Homo sapiens: one gene and its partner. The protein of the gene in region 1 interacts with the protein of each later gene in a pairwise test. Each region holds a gene or a part of one and is shown in the gene's direction. Other genes may lie near its edges.

Evidence for each region. Proteins that work in one complex are often made in the same cells at the same time.
Region 2: the proteins of TMT1A (region 1) and SETDB1 interact in binary tests that used the Homo sapiens proteins (3 or more experiments, as listed by UniProt).

The regions. Positions count from the first base shown.
Region 1 is NC_000012.12:50,930,512-50,933,166, forward strand, and holds the end of TMT1A (thiol S-methyltransferase TMT1A precursor), read left to right. Parts: 3' UTR 1-1,997; downstream 1,998-2,655. UniProt on the Homo sapiens protein: Thiol S-methyltransferase that catalyzes the transfer of a methyl group from S-adenosyl-L-methionine to alkyl and phenolic thiol-containing acceptor substrates.
Region 2 is NC_000001.11:150,950,236-150,953,893, forward strand, and holds part of SETDB1 (histone-lysine N-methyltransferase SETDB1), read left to right. Parts: intron 1-222; coding exon 223-855; coding exon of another isoform or gene 856-859; intron 860-1,129; coding exon 1,130-1,246; intron 1,247-3,658. UniProt on the Homo sapiens protein: Histone methyltransferase that specifically trimethylates 'Lys-9' of histone H3. H3 'Lys-9' trimethylation represents a specific tag for epigenetic transcriptional repression by recruiting HP1 (CBX1, CBX3 and/or CBX5) proteins to methylated histones.

The DNA.
Region 1 (2,655 bases):
AGGCAATCCACCCACCTCAGCCTCCCAAAGTGCTGGGATGACAGGCGTGAGCAACCGCACCCAGCTTAAGGTTTTTTTGTTTTGTTTTGAGACGGAGTTTTCGCTCTTGTTGCCCAGGCTGGAGTGCAATGCTGTGATCTCAGCTTACCACAACCTCCACCTCCCGGGTTCAAGTGATTCACCTGCCTCAGCCTCCTGAGTAGCTGGTATTACAGGCATGCGTCACCACGCCGGCTAATTTTGTACTTTTAGTAGAGATGGTGTTTCCCCACGTTGGTCAGTCTGGTCTCAAATTCCTGACCTCAGGTGATCTGCCTGCCTCGGCCTCCCAAAGTGCTGTGATTACAGACGTCAGCCACCATGCCTGGCCTGAAACCTTTTTTAGGTAAAGTTGAATTCCATCCTTAAAAGTTTCTGTTATATCCTATTTAGCCATTTTCTATTGTCTCCCAAAGAATTCACATCAAAAAAACAGCTTTGAACTCCCCCTTCAAAGGAAACAGTCGACTTTCATAATTAGCATCTACCATTATCCCCAAATCTTATTTTATTCATTGACTTGAAATTTTTTCCAATTGCTTTTTTTTTTTTTTTTTTAAGGTTAAGAGCAGAGGTTTACTAGGCCAAAGAAAGAGAATAGCTCTCTGTTGCAGAGAGGGGTCCTGGAGAAATGGGTTACCCCAGTTGTCTTATTTAAATGGTTACCCATCAGATTTTAATTTTATCTTCTCTTTGAGAGCTTGGTAATAAGAAGCACTTAAATCACTCCAAAGAAGACTTTAAAAAGGGAGCAGTGAAAAGGTCTTAATAATTTATTGATTGAATTAAGAAATACTAGCTAATTAAGAATCTGAGTCTAAACAGCACAGATTTTTTCTTTCTGCTTTTAAATTGTGTTTTAAAAAAAGAGACAGGGGGCTGGGCGTGGTGGCTCACGCCTGTAATCCTAGCACTTTGGGAGGCCGAGGCGGGTGGATCACGAGGTAGGAGTTAAAGACCAGCCTGGCCAACATGGCAAAACCCTACTAAAGATACAAAAAAAAAAAAAAATTAGCCAGGCGTGGTGGTGGGTGCCTGTAATCCCAGGTACTTGGAAGGCTGAGGCAGGAGAATCTCTTGAACCCAGAAGGCGAAGGTTGCAGTGAACCGAGATCATGCCATTGTACTCTAGCCTGGGTGACAAGAGCAAGACTCCGTCTCAAAAAAAAAAAAAAAAAAAAAAAGAAGTAGAGACAGGGAGACAGGGTCTCACTGTGTTGCCTAGGCCGGTCTTGAACTCCTGGGCTCAAGTGATTCTCCCACCTTGACCTCCTAAATTGTTGGGATTACAGGTGTGAGACAGTGCACCTGGCCGAAATAGCTCAAGTTTCTGAAAAACAAATCTGAATCTATTTGTTATTCTTAGCGTCACTGGTCTGGCTTTCAGAATTAACATACAAGGTTGCCACACCTAGTTCTGCCCAGCTTTATGTCTTTTATTCCAGTATTCCACCAAAGTTTGTTTTCCTGCATTCCAGTTCTCAAGTCTTAAGATAAAGATTGTACTTGACAGTTTAGTATATCCATAAAACTATTTGAGGTGGTTAAGGTTCTTGGGTTCATTTTCCTTAATACTTTGCTGAATATTGTAGATTGTAGGCAATGAAAAAGTCTACTAAATTAGGAAAACCTTGAATAATTAGGTATCCTAGGTAAGAGCCCCTAAACATCAAGCAATCTGTGAGTCTGTAAAGAAATAAATATTTTTTGGATTATTCTTATCTAATTCCACCCCTGTTGGAAGATGATTTCTTTGTTCTTTGCAACTATGGAAGCTGTGAAAATCATCACAAGTGCCTCTGAAAGCGAGTGTTAGGTTGGTTAGAGGGTTTAATATTTTCTGCAATGGTTTGTAGGAATTTTAATAAATGTAGTATATTTTCTGAGATGATTTTGTAAAAGTACTATTTTAAATATCAAATCAACCAATAAATTCACATTTGTGTTAGGAACAGAAATATGGTTTATATCTTTGCTGGCTTGGTTTCCTTTTTCTTAATGTCTCTGGGAGGCTTATTCCTTCATTGTGGAAATTTTAGCTATTTAAACATGTAAATTTTTCTTTCTACAGCCAGGTAACTATAAACACAGCCAATAGATTTTACACAAAGCAATCCTAGAAGTATCAGAATGGGTTTTGAAAAGTTCAAGTCCATCATGTGATCATGTTTGGCTACTTTAAAAAAGCAAAAAAGTTCAAGTCTAACGATCCCATTTGTGAAATCCACAGAGCAGAAAGAAAGGAAGCTTTTACTATTTTAACTATCTCTTGAACGTGAAAAGTTATTGATGCAGTGAGGTCGAATGCACACCTACTGCTTCCTAAGCTCTGGAACATGAATCTCCTTCCTCTGTCATCTCCCCAGAATTGGAACCTCCTTAATCCAACCATCTCACTATTGGTCAGTCTAGTGATTGAGAAATAGGAAAAGCCACAGGTTGAAATGATGAAATGTCATTACACTGAAAGATAATACCAAAGTACAAAGTCCTAGGCACAGTCTTGTCAATTCCCTCTTGTCTAAGTGGTGTGGCAAATATTATTGTCACTTTTCAGAGAAAACTGAGGTGTAGAGAAATAAATAAATGAAGTTTTTTACAGTCATTCCACAAGTT
Region 2 (3,658 bases), on another chromosome or scaffold:
AAAAAAAAAGAGAAATAGAGATGTTATCAGTCAGTGAAGAGTAACCAGGGAGTTTCATTGTCCAGGTTTGGTAGGGCAAGGGAAGATCTTTCTTGAATCATCTTTAGCTTCAGGAGCACAGCTGTTTGAAAGATGAGAGAAATGGCTTAGCTACCTGGAGGGTTAATTATAAAACAGAGGTCCTGTTGCCTTCCGATCTGATCACTTGCATCTCATTTGCAGATCACCTTTAGGCTCCACAGCCTCTGCCCCAGCACCCTCAGCACTCCCGGCCCCTCCAGCACCCCCAGTCTTCCATGGCATGCTGGAGCGGGCCCCAGCAGAGCCCTCCTACCGTGCTCCCATGGAGAAGCTTTTCTACTTACCTCATGTCTGCAGCTATACCTGTCTGTCTCGAGTCAGACCTATGAGGAATGAGCAGTACCGGGGCAAGAACCCTCTGCTGGTCCCGTTACTATATGACTTCCGGCGGATGACAGCCCGGCGTCGAGTTAACCGCAAGATGGGCTTTCATGTTATCTATAAGACACCTTGTGGTCTCTGCCTTCGGACAATGCAGGAGATAGAACGCTACCTTTTCGAGACTGGCTGTGACTTCCTCTTCCTGGAGATGTTCTGTTTGGATCCATATGTTCTTGTGGACCGAAAGTTTCAGCCCTATAAGCCTTTTTACTATATTTTGGACATCACTTATGGGAAGGAAGATGTTCCCCTATCCTGTGTCAATGAGATTGACACAACCCCTCCACCCCAGGTGGCCTACAGCAAGGAACGTATCCCGGGCAAGGGTGTTTTCATTAACACAGGCCCTGAATTTCTGGTTGGCTGTGACTGCAAGGATGGGTGTCGGGACAAGTGAGTTGGTGGGGGGAATTGCTGCCCCTGCTTCCAACTTTGTTATGGTGTCTGTTTCACCTCTTCCTTTGCCTTGTATCTGTACTGCTTTCCCCATCTTCCTTTACCTCCTCCCTCACCTGGAACTCCTGCTATAAGGCCTCCATGAAAGCTATGAGGTAGGGAGGCTGGAGTCTGACATGGCCACACTGAGCAACCTTGGGTACATGTGTATTGTGTTATTTTTGTTCTCTGATCCCCCCGCTCCTTTCCTTTATTTCCCTCTGTCATATAGGTCCAAGTGTGCCTGCCATCAACTAACTATCCAGGCTACAGCCTGTACCCCAGGAGGCCAAATCAACCCTAACTCTGGCTACCAGTACAAGAGACTAGAAGAGTGTCTACCCACAGGGTAAGTGGTCAAGGAATGGCACAGTACCTCAGAGAGACTGAGGAGCATGTTCTTGTTTTTCTGTGCTTATAGAAATCATCAGAAATCTAAAAATTGGAACCAAAAATAGAATACCAGATGAGGCATTTTATTAATTAGATCTTATTTCATGACTTCCAAAACACATTTTTTTTCTTGGACCTTCCTTGAAATGAAGACATAGAATGATTGAATAGTATCTAGCAATTTTCTGTTGCAAAAAAAGATTATCTTAATTTCATAGCTAAATGAATGTCTTAACAGATTGTGATTTACACTTGTAAGTGAAATGTGTTCAGAGAGGAGAAGTAGGCAGGGACCTGATTACATAGGGCTTTGTAAATCAGAATGAAAAAAGTTAGAATCAGGCTGGCACAGTGGCTCACACCTGTAATCCCAGCACTTTCGGAGGCCAAGGTGGGTGGATCACCTGAGGTCAGGAGTTTGAGACCAGCCTGGCCAACCTGGTGAAACCCTGTCTCTACTAAAAATACAAAAATTAGCCGGGGGTGGTGGCGGGTGCCTGCAGTCCCAACTACTTGGGAGGCTGAGGCAGGAGAATCGCTTGAATCCAGGAGGCAGAGGTTGCAGTGAGCCAAGATCATGCCACTGCACTTCAGCCTGGGTGACAAGAGCGAGACTCTGCCTTAAAAAAAAAAAAAGAAAAGTTAGAATCAAATTCATGGTGCTCTTACAGGATTTTAAGCTGCCAAGTGATGTGACCTGCCTTTTTCAGATTACTCTGGCTTCTTTGTAGATCATAGGTCTTAGGATGGCAAAAGTAGATTTTGGAAGACCAATTAGGAGATCGTTATAGGAGTACAGCAGAGAGAGACATTGTTGCAGCTATGACTTGCAATAGAATGGAGGTGATAGTAGAGGTAAGAAGGATAGATTTGGGCTGTATTAATAGGTAGAGCTACAGAATTGGATAGATTATGGAGTGGGGGGAAAGAGTAGAATCAAGGACAATTCCTAAATTTTTGGCTTGAGCATCTTAGTGGTTGTTGGTGCTTTTTACTGAGATGGAAGACCGAAGGAGTAGTAGGTTTGAGTGAAATTCAGTTTTTGTTTTGGCCATGTTAAGTTTGAAATGCCGCCGGGCGCAGTGGCTCACGCCTGTAATCCCAGCACTTTGGGAGGCTGAGGCGGGCGGATCACCTGAGGTCGGGAGTTCAAGACCAGCCTTGACCAACATGGAGAAATCCCGTCTCTACTAAAAATACAAAAAAAAAAAATTAGCCGGGCATGGTGGCGCATGCCTGTAATCTCAGCTACTCGGGAGGCTGAGGCAGGAGAATTGCTTGAATCTGGGAGGCGGAGGTTGTGGTGAGCTAAGATCGCACCATTGCACTCCAGCCTGGGCAACAAGAGCGAAACTCAGTCTCAGAAAACAAAACAAAACAAAAAGTTTGAAATGCCTGTCAGGCAATCCAAGTAGAAATGTCAAGAAGACACTGGGATTTCTGGAGAGAGTGGGATATAAAAATTTAGGAATCATCAGCACAGGAGTATTTAAAGCCTGAATAAGTTCACCTAGAGACAATGTTGATAATAGAGAAGGCGGCTCAGGAGTAAGCCCTGGGTGCCCCAACATTTAAAGGTTGAGCAGAGGAGGTGGAACCAGCATGAGGTTGAGGACAGCTACTGAGGAGGGTGAGGCCGAAAGATTACTTGAGGCCTGGAGTTTGAGACCAGACTGGGCAACATAGTAAGACCCTGTGTCTAAAAAAAAATTGTTGGGGCTGGGCGTGGTGGCTCACGCCTGTAATCCCAGCACTTTTCGAGGCTGAGGCAGGCAGATCACTTGAGGTCAGGAGTTCAAGACCAGCCTGGCCAATATGGTGAAACCCCATCTCTACTAAAAATACAAAAAACTTGCCAGGGATGGTGGCGAGCACCTGTAATCCCAGCTACTTGGGAGGCTGAGACAGGAGAATCACTTGGACCCAGGAGGTGGAGGTTGCAGTGAGCCAAGACCGCACCATTGCACTCCAGCCTGGGCAAGAAAAGCAAAATTCTATCTCAAAAAAAAAAAAAAATTGTTGGCCATGCGCGGTGGCTCATGCCTGTAATCCCAACACTTTGGGAGGCCAAGGTGGGTGGATCACCTGAGGTCAGGAGTTCAAGAACAGCCTGGCCAACATGGTGAAACCCCATCTGTAATAAAAATACAAAAATTAGCCAGGCGTGATTGTGCACGCCTGTAATCTCAGCTATTTGGGAGGCTGAGGCAAGAGAATCGCTTGAAGCTGGGAGGCAGAGATTACAGTAAGCTGAGATTGCACCACTGCACTCCAGTCTGGACAACACAACAAGACTCCGTCTCAAAAAAAATGATTTAAAAATTAAAAAAAAAATTTTTTTTTTTTTTAGATGGAGTCTTGCTCTGTC